Linked DNA regions of Homo sapiens: region 2 is linked to region 1. Evidence: fine-mapped expression QTL. A gene starts in region 1. The other region holds a variant in brackets. All regions are shown on one strand. Distances are between the middles of the regions.

The links. PIP is the estimated chance that this variant, and not a neighbour inherited with it, causes the effect.
Region 2: its variant is the best candidate, but not a certain one, in a credible set for the expression of TCIM in tibial nerve (GTEx, PIP 0.56).

What each region holds. Positions count from the first base shown.
Region 1 is chr8:40,151,255-40,156,639 of GRCh38, forward strand. TCIM (transcriptional and immune response regulator) reads left to right here and starts at 2,228. Exons shown (of 1, transcript NM_020130.5): 1 at 2,228-4,056. The coding sequence starts at 2,279. The coding sequence ends at 2,599. The region is part of intron 3 of LINC02866 (long intergenic non-protein coding RNA 2866); the gene reads left to right.
Region 2 is chr8:40,087,868-40,093,252 of GRCh38, forward strand. No RefSeq gene overlaps it. Among named protein-coding and RNA genes, the nearest start is that of LINC02866, 14 kb to the right of the region's middle. The variant C/T (reference allele first, on the strand shown) is at 2,934.

The sequences.
Region 1 (5,385 bases):
AATCCTTGTTGCCATAATAATAATTTTTTTTTAAATTTAGCAAGGGAAACGATGCTGCCACAAAGGTGTGCTATATAGGCCTGTAAATCCATAGACATAGACAGCAGAACAAAGGGCTCTTCTGGAACCCTTGGAAAAACTGGAACACACATGAGCTGCATGGTTGGAGAGTTGACCACTGGCACACCTGGAAATGTCTTTCAAGGAGGCATCCTTCAGAAGAGATCAGCCTGGGCTCCTGTTTGTTATTCATTCCTCGCATCTAATTTTTCAGCAATCGTCTTAGCTTTACCTTCACAATATGCCAGAATTGGATCAGTTCTCACTACCTCCACATTCTCCCTAGTGGAAGCCTTCATCCTCTCTTTCTTGGATTATTGAACATCTCCTGACTAGTCTTCCTGCTCCCCACTCCCTGCTTGCTTCCCTGAAATCTATTCTCTTCTAAGAAGTGTCAGTAAGCTTTTAAAATTATAAGGAAAACCATGCCATTTCTCTGCTCCAAATTCTCCAAAGCCCACCTGTCTCCTAACAGTGTACGAGCTAAATCCACAATCAAAGCCTGTGAGGTTGCACACAGCCTGCTCCTGCCCTCTTTCCACTGCCTACTCGCCCTTACCTCATCTCCTCCCACTCTGCCCTGCTCACTCTGCTCTGACCACACTGGTCCCTGGCTGTTCTCCATACACTCTTTGCACACTCTTTTCTTCAACCTTCTGCACTTGCTTCTCTGGCAGCACCCTTCCTACAGATATCCATATAGCTGACTGCCTCCTTCACCACCTTCAAGTCTTTGCACAATGTCTCATTACAAGAAGCTGTGCCTGAATATCCTAGGAAAATCTCAACCCTCTCCTTCCACTCCTGTACAACTCTGCTTCATTTTTACTCATAATATTCCTTACTCTGACATGATATATATTATAAATGTATGTTTCTATTGTCTATTTCCCAGTAGAACATAAACTTCATTAAGGTAAAAAAGGGATTCTTTGCATGGTTTGGTTAGGTTGGTTTTGTTTGGTTTTCTGTTTCATTTCCAATGCCTCAAAAAGTTCTGGCTAATAACACACCTTTAATAAATATTGATTAAATAAATGAGTGGATAAACGAGTAAGTGAATGAATGAATTAAAATATAAGGAGAGTCTCTAACTTAATTTCCTAGTGAGGTACCTTCCCCACGGTGTCTCCCTTTGCGCATTTTCTAGATCTTACTTGACTAGATAAAAAGAAAAACGAAAAGACCTGTCCTGCTTTCTTAAAGGACTAGAAAGCGGACCAGGCGTAAGATCCACAAAGAGAATCTCCAGGACCCTTTGAAGCTCACATTTAGCATATGACAACTCCATAGGTCAGTGAGGACACTGGCTGGCTTGAATATTGTGGAAGACAGGAAGAACACATTTATATGCTTCCAAAGAAGTTATTGCTCTATGTCTGGGTAATGCCAAAATAAATTTGAAAACAAAAGATCACCTCGTTCATTTTGGGCACTGTGCACGTAAAACACTTGATTAACTTTTCCTGCTGGCTTTTTTGATAGCTATTGTTGTGGATGTATACACAAGCCTAAGGAGATAGCCTCTACTATTCATATTATTACTACACCCAAATTACAATGGTCTTCAGTGACACTTAGCACTTGTACACAATCTCTGAAAAGTCACCGTTTCAAGCTGTGTCATGTCAGCGTTTTGTATGTAAAATCCCATCCTAGAATTGATCACACCCCAAATTATTATCCTTGATTGCTCAGCTTTCTCTCAGTAGCTCTGGAGTTGCCCCTGATATGGATGTCCAAAGGGCACTGATGTGGACTGCCAAATGTTTGCAGTGCACTTTAATTACTTCTCTGCGAACGAAAGCTTTCCTGTAGTTAGCAGAACCCCTTGTTCTAACTGTCGTTTGGGAAGATTTGAGAGTCTAAGCAACCTCGTTTATGTCTTATCTTTGCATTTTCCTGTATTCAGCTATTTTCTTAAAGGAAGGCCCAGGTCTGTATTATCCTACTGCCACATAGGAAGTAAAATGAGTACTCACAGCCTTGCGCCTAATCACTGAACACAGCTTTTAGTAATGTTTTACACAAGAACAGGATATTGGCAACTCAACTGTTAAGCCTTTCTGTGATTATTCTTCCTTGAGATCACTCTGATGTCACCAGTGTAATTTGAGCCTGGAGCTTTTGTTCACACTTTAAATAGCAGTCCCAGAATGATTTCACTACAGACTCTCTGGAAAGCCTGGGAGCTGAATTCCGGAAGATCCCCACATCGATGAAAGCAAAGCGAAGCCACCAAGCCGTCATCATGTCCACGTCGCTACGAGTCAGCCCATCCATCCATGGCTACCACTTCGACACAGCCTCTCGTAAGAAAGCCGTGGGCAACATCTTTGAAAACACAGACCAAGAATCACTAGAAAGGCTCTTCAGAAACTCTGGAGACAAGAAAGCAGAGGAGAGAGCCAAGATCATTTTTGCCATAGATCAAGATGTGGAGGAGAAAACGCGTGCCCTGATGGCCTTGAAGAAGAGGACAAAAGACAAGCTTTTCCAGTTTCTGAAACTGCGGAAATATTCCATCAAAGTTCACTGAAGAGAAGAGGATGGATAAGGACGTTATCCAAGAATGGACATTCAAAGACCAAGTGAGTTTGTGAGATTCTAACAGATGCAGCATTTTGCTGCTACCTTACAAGCTTCTCTTCTGTCAGGACTCCAGAGGCTGGAAAGGGACCGGGACTGGAAAGGGACCAGGACTGAACAGACTGGTTACAAAGACTCCAAACAATTTCATGCCCTGTGCTGTTACAGAGGAGAACAAAATGCTTTCAGCAAGGATTTGAAAACTCTTCCGTCCCTGCAGGAAAGGATTGATGCTGATAGAAGAGCCTGGACAGATGTAATGAGAACTAAAGAAAACAGATGGCTGGAGATGACATTTATCCAGGGTCACTTTGTCAGGCCCTAGGACTTAAATCGAAGTTGAACTTTTTTTTTTTTTTTTAACCAAATAGATAGGGGAAGGGAGGAGGGAGAGGGAGGACAGGGAGAGAAAATACCATGCATAAATTGTTTACTGAATTTTTATATCTGAGTGTTCAAAATATTTCCAAGCCTGAGTATTGTCTATTGGTATAGATTTTTAGAAATCAATAATTGATTATTTATTTGCACTTATTACAATGCCTGAAAAAGTGCACCACATGGATGTTAAGTAGAAATTCAAGAAAGTAAGATGTCTTCAGCAACTCAGTAAAACCTTACGCCACCTTTTGGTTTGTAAAAGGTTTTTTATACATTTCAAACAGGTTGCACAAAAGTTAAAATAATGGGGTCTTTTATAAATCCAAAGTACTGTGAAAACATTTTACATATTTTTTAAATCTTCTGACTAATGCTAAAACGTAATCTAATTAAATTTCATACAGTTACTGCAGTAAGCATTAGGAAGTGAATATGATATACAAAATAGTTTATAAAGACTCTATAGTTTCTATAATTTATTTTACTGGCAAATGTCATGCAACAATAATAAATTATTGTAAACTTTGTGGCTTTTGGTCTGTGATGCTTGGTCTCAAAGGAAAAAATAAGATGGTAAATGTTGATATTTACAAACTTTTCTAAAGATGTGTCTCTAACAATAAAAGTTAATTTTAGAGTAGTTTTATATTAATTACCAAACTTTTTCAAAACAAATTCTTACGTCAAATATCTGGGAAGTTTCTCTGTCCCAATCTTAAAATATAAAATATAGATATAGAAGTTCATAGATTGACTCCTTGGCATTTCTATTTATGTATCCATTAAGGATGAGTTTTAAAAGGCTTTCTCTTCATACTTTTGAAAAATTTCTTCTATGATTACAGTAGCTATGTACATGTGTACATCTATTTTTCCCAAGCAATATGTTTTGGGTTTAGAGTCTGAGTGATGACCAAGATTCTGTGTGTTACTACTGTTTGTTTAATAGGAACAAATATAGAAATAATATTATCTCTTTGCTTATTTCCCGTTAAAACTATAATAAAATGTTTCTAGGACAGCATACGTAAATGCCTGCTATGCTTTCCTAACAAAAATGAAATTTTTCCACAAGTTAAGCATTTTAGAAACACCTAAAGTGTTTTTCAAAATGCTGATCACAGTAAGTCAAAACAAGTGAATTACCTCACATCTGCTGGGAGGGTTACAAGTCAGGATTATAAATACTATGTTTTTAAAAAGAAAATCAAATGGCAAATTCTATTTTCAAATAGTAATTTACTCGTTCACTGAAGATAATGCAAAGCACTTTATTAAAAATGAGTTCTTTCCAAGAGAGCATTCCGGAAGATAACACATTAATATGCAAAATTGTGTGTGTGTGTGTGTGTGTGTGTGTGTGTGCATTTTTCTAAGAGGAATATTGATAATTTTCACGAGATTTGTAGAGACAGCTATAACTCCAAAAAAAGTTATAAACAGAAAAAGGGTTTGCGGAGTAGCAGGAGAATTGGAGGAAGCCTAACCCAGGCTGGGGACATACTAGACAATTCCATAGAAATTTTCCCTGTTTCATTTTCACTGTGCTGTGTTACGGGAGTATGAAAGAGAAGGCTGTAAAGAGGCCCTCGGCTCCATAACCCTACTTTCCCATCCTTATGAACTGAGCTTTCTTAATGTTCACTGCGTGTGCTAGAAATAACTTCCTTCTCCTGATAGGGCCCATCAGTGAAAATCTTTATTTTCTATTCAAAAATTGAAGCACACTTGGATGCTAAATGTAGTTCAAGAGTTAAGTGTATTATACATACTCATAACTATTTACTCTGCCACTGTTGTTTTCAATAGGGTACAAAGTATATCTTCTCCTCTTTTCACATTAGCATGTATTAAGTTGTTTTCTTGCAGTATATTACGTTATTTTCTGATTTCAAGGCTGTAACATGGGAGACAAATTAAAAAGCAATTTGGATGCACTCCACAATGGTATGGAGAATAATAACACATCCAGTAGATTATCACAAACGTGTCATCTTTACCATTCATGGAGAACAAAAGTTGGAATCAATTTAATTGCATAAGGATGATTTTTAGCTTCATAATACATTCATTACTTAATGTGAGGTGAAAATAAACATCAGTAGAACAGGGAGGATTGGTTCAGTTTAGAAATTTATGGCACAAGGATAAACAAATATATCTCAGGACATCTCACTGTAATTGAAGAAATGAAAGCAGCAAAGATTAAATAGCTCGTTAATCATATTTGTATCATGAGATCACAGTAATAACTTTCACTGAGTGTTTACTCTCAGTCAGACAATTTTCTAAGTGTTTTTTTTGTGTATTACTAATACATCACTTAATTAGTGCCATGACATAAATGCTAAGGGC
Region 2 (5,385 bases), 63 kb before region 1:
TTAAACTCTCCACTCCTTAAAACCACTCCACGTGTGTCCATGTCGTTTTATACAATTCGACATGAAACAAGAGCCCTGGTGTTCCTCCACTCACTGGAGCTGTATCACTAGGAAAGGCCGGCGAGAGAAAAGGTGGGAAAATTGTATCTTGTAATCTCCACAATGGTAGGCTCTATGTTGGCCATATCAAGAGTTCAACGCAAAATCCTCCCCTCTCTTCTTCCTTTTCTCTCTGGCTCTCTCCTTCCCTTTCCTTCTTCCGTCCAACATATTGCTGGGTAGAATACAATGATATTATTCAGGACTTTATATTATTATTCCGAGTATGTTGGAATTTAGCCTACAGAATGTAAGGGTGATGTTGCCCCAGATCACTAGCATACCCTCCATTCGTTTTTACTAGTTCCTCTATGATTTTATAACTGAAAGATCACAGTATTCTTTTAAAGAGGTTCCTGGTGTCAGAAGGGGGTCGTTTGAAGCAAGATAGCAGACCTAACTATTGGTAAGTTGATTTCATTCAGAAGGTAGGAAAAGCAAGGAGTTCCTCTCTCCTGTCTTCTCTTTCTCTTCTCCCCTAAACAGACAGAACATTTAAACTCAAGCAGTCCTGGGCTCTTACTCAAGACACACGGGAAACTGGTAGGGAAAATGAGAGATAGGATCATGTGCATGGCTATTTAAAAGTTTATTGCCCAATTAATTTGTTATGTATTCTTGGTAAAGCTCAGAACAATCTAACTTGGTCTCACGAGAAGAGAGTATGGTATTATCAAAAGAGAAGCAGGTCAGTTTGCAAAAGGCTATTTTGCTAATAGATCAATTTTAAAGTGAATTCCATTTGCCAAATTACTGATAATTTCTCAGTTTTAATTTTGCTTCAGCCTCTATCCAGCACTTGTATCTTATACCCCCTCTTATTCCTATCATTGCCGTTTTACATGTAAATGGATAGCATTTCCGTTTTTGCTTTTTAGTCTCTATTGTCATGGGTGTGAGTCCTACTACTGCTCTGCACTCTGTACCTGCTTTAGTCCCAGACGTTATCACAAATGTTACACTTTTTTTGGTTGTTGTTATTGAGATAAAGTCTCCCTGTGAGGCCCAGACTGGAGTGCAATGGCGCTATCTTGGCTCACTGCAACCTCCGCTTCTAGGATTCAAGGGATATTTTATTTATTTTATTTTATTTTATTTTATTTTATTTTGAGACAGGGTCTCACTCCGTCGCCCAGGCAAGAGTGCAGTGGTACAATCTGGGCTCACGGAAACCTCCGCCTCCCAGCTTCAAGTGGTTCTCCTGTCTCAGCCTCCCAAGTAGCTGGGATTACAGGCACCCACAACCACGCCTGGCTAATTCTTGTATTTTTAGTAGAGATGGGGTTTCACCATGTTGGCCAGTCTGGTCTCGAACTCCTGACCTCAGGTGATCTGCCCTCCTCGGCCTCCCAAAGTGCTGGGATTACAGGCGTGAGCCACCACACCTGGCACAAATGTTACACTTACACAGCGTCTAACACCATATATCTCAGCTCTTTCTATGCTAGCGTTTATAGGAAAGCCCAACTATTTTCATTTAAAAATAACGTAAGCTGGGGTAGAAAAAAATGTAGGAGCAAAACTGCTCCAAGAGTAGGAGGGGGAAGGGGCAAGAGTTATACATGAAAAAAAGAGTTTGAGAAGCACTTCAGCCATTTAATAATTGATTAAATACAATAATGGAATAAATTGATCATTCAGTTGGATTCATTTGCAGGTTCCTGGTTTTAAAGCAAATCAGTCGGGAACCAGTGAAAAGCCTTAAAGCTCCACGGTTAAAATATCTTCTCCACTTGGGATGATGGCCTTAACCTCCCTGTGGTCAGTTATAAGGTCTTGACTTATTTTGTTCCTCTATCCTTTAAGATAGACATGTCGCCCAAGTGACACAGAGGTCATTTTCAAAGTCTCTTCAAGAAGGGTTGTATGGACTTTTTTCATCAGTACTACACTTTATAGGTTTGTTGTTGTTGTTGTTTTGATGGAGTCTTGCTGCATTGCCAGGCTGGAGTGCAGTGGCACGATCTTGGCTCACTGCAAACTCCGCCTCCCGGGTTCAAGTGATTCTGCTGCCTCAGCCTCCCACGTAGCTGGGATTACAGGTGTGCACCATCACGCCTGGCTAAGTTTTTGTATTTTAGTAGAGACAGGGTTTCACCATGTTGGCTAGGTTGGTCTCGATCTCCTGACCTCATGGTCCACCCACCCTGGCCTCCCAAAGTGCCAGGATTACAGGCGTGAGCCAAGCCTCCTGGCCAGGGTTTGTTTTAAATATTAAAAGTGAAAAATCAATTCTTACAAATACATGAATGAGATTGAGATGTATTTCTTCTTTAACTTTTTTTTATTTGAAACAGTGCTTTTAATTGTTTCAGAAAGTTTAAGAATGGCTGGGAGTAGTGGCTCACGCCTGTAATCCCAGCACTGTGGGAGGCCGAGGAGGGCGAATCACCTGAGGTCAGGAGCTCGAGACCAGCCTGGCCAACATGGCGAAACCCCGTCTCTACTAAAAATACAAAAAAATTGCTGGGCATGGTGGCATGCACCTGTAATCCCAGCTATTCAGGAGGCTGAGGCAGGAGAATTGCTTGAGCCCCGGGAGGTGGGGGTTGCAGTGAACTGAGATGGCACCATTGCACTCCAGCCTGGGGGACAGAGTGAGACTCCATCTCAAAAAAAAAATAAAAAATAAAAAATAAAGTTTGAGACAACATTTCTCATGAATTCTTTGGATTCTTTGGGACTGGGGTAAGTGGAAAGGGCTGGGGACAAAGTTCGGGGTAGTAATTATGTTCTAGGACCATCCTAACAACATGATGCCATTCTTCTCTTCCAATAATTGTATCTCCCCTTTGTTTCTGAGAATTGTGGGCCTCACCCTCCATGACGCCTCA[C/T]GTCGAAGGAACAATTTGCTGTTGTTTTCAAGATTTTGCTACACTGAAATCCATAGTCCATAAATCACATTTAAAGGAGAGAGTGGGCAGATGATTAAAATGCTTTTTCTAAATTCTCGGAACAGCCTTACCATGGAAGCATACTGACTATTAATCACCAAACTCAGCAGGACTGTAATCTTTGCCTTTTAGGAGGAGTCACAAGCATAACAGGTTTGAGTTGTATTGTGAGGCTGGTCATTGAGACTGCAGCATCAACAGGACATTTGTGCACACAGCGGGGCATCTGTCGACTTTTGCCAACAGAGGCATGTGTGAACATTTAAAAAAAAAATAAACCTGTTTACAACAGTTTTAGATTTACAGAATTATTGTGAAGTTAGTAAAGAGAATTTCCACATACTCTAACCCCGTTTCTTTGATGATTAAGATTTTATATTAGTATGACACATTTGCCCTAATTAATGAACCAATATTGATACATCATTATTAAGTAAAATCAATGCTTAAATCAGACTATCTCAGTTTCCCCCTTGTGTCTTTTTACCTTTCCAGGATCCCATCCAGGAAACCACATTATATTTAGTAGCTGTGTCTCCATAGGCTCCTTTTGGTCATGACAGTGTCTGTGATTTTCCTTGGTTTTGATCATCTTGACAGGTTTGAGGAGTTCTGGTCAGGTATTCTCTAGAATGTCCTTCAATTGGAATTTGTCTGGTGTCTTTTTCATGATTAGGCTATGTGAACCCTGAAAATTTGAGACAGGTCTCAGTTAATTTAGAAAGTTGATTTTACCAAGGTTGAGGATGCCCGACTGTGACACAGCCTCAAGAGGTCCTGATGACATGTGCCCAAGGGGGTCAGGGCACAGCTTGATTTCATACATTTTAGGGAGACAAGAGACATCAATCAATAGATATAAGACATACACTGTTTTGGTCTGGAAAGGCGGGACAACTCGAAGCGGGGGCAGGAAGACTCTAAGCCGGGGAGAGGGCTTCCAGGTCACAGATAGGTGAGAGAAGCGGTTGCATTCTTTTAATTTTTTTTTTTTTTTTTTGAGACAAAGTCTAGCTCTGTCGCCCAGGCTGGAGTGCAATGGCGCGATCTTGCCTCACTGCAACCTCCACCCCCTAGGTTCAAGGGATTCTCCTGCCTCAGCCTCCTGGGCAACTGGGATTCCAGGCACCCACCACCACGCCCAGCTAATTTTGTTTTTAGTAGAGATGGGGTTTCACCATGTTGGCCAAGCTGGTCTCAAGCTCCCAACCTCAAGTGATCCACCCACCCTGGCCTCCCAAAGTGCTGGGATTACAGGCTTGAGACACTGCCCGGCCTGTTTTGAGGTTCTGATTAGCCTTTCCAAAGGAGGCAATCTGATATGCCTTTGCCTCAGTGAGCACAGGGATAACTTTGAATAGAATGGGAGGCAAGCCTGGGATAATGTATTTTGGAAAGAAAGACAACAGAGGTAAGCAAGCCCACAGAATTCCCTCTCATCATGTCTCATAGAGGGTGCCTGCTGTTGCATGACTTATGACTTTGATGGTCATCTTGATCACTGGGATCGAGGTAGTGTTTGTCAGTTTCTCTCCTGTAAAGCTGTTCTTTCAACTCCTTCCCTGCTGTGAAACCAAAGGAAATGACTGACAGTCTCCATCAATTAGAGGCTTATTTTTGCCAATATTGAGGATGCGCCCAGGAAAAAGAGACACAGGCTGCAGTAGAATCTGCGGCCCATACTTTTTCCAAAGATGATTTTGAGGGCTTCAGTATTTAAAAGAGGAAAAAGTAGGTAGAAGGGGAAAGGAGGAACCAAAACAGAACAGTGTAGACAAAAGCAGCAAGTGGTTGCATTCTCTTGGGATTTTCATCAGCATTCACTGAATTTACCTTGTACATGTGAAAGGAGTGGGCAGAGGCTGGGTGTGGTGGCTCACGCCTTTAATCCCAGCACTTTGGGAGGGCGAGGTGGGCAGATCACAAGGTCAGGAGTTCAAGACCAGCCAGACCAACACGGTGAAACCCCGGCTCTACTAAAAATACAAAAATTAGCGGGGCGTGGTGGTGGGCGCCTGTAATCTCAGCTACTTAGGAGGATGAGGCAGGAGAATCGCTTAGACCCAGGAGGTGGAGCTTGCAATGAGCCGAGATCTTGCCACTGCACTACAGCCTGGGCAACAGAGCGAGAGTCCACCAAAACAAACAAACAAAACAAAACAAAACAAAAAGAACAAACAAAAAACAAAAAGAAAGGAGCAGGCAGAGGCATTGGTCTGCTCAGTGAATCTGCGTTTTTGCATGAAAGAAAGTAAACATAGAGTAGAGGAAGCAGCCAAATATGCTTCAGTCTCCGGTGAGCAGATGGATGACTTCTGTTCCTGTCTCTGTCCTGTCTTTTACCTGTGAAAAGAAGCTGTTAATTTACATTGTCGGGATGAAATTCAACAGA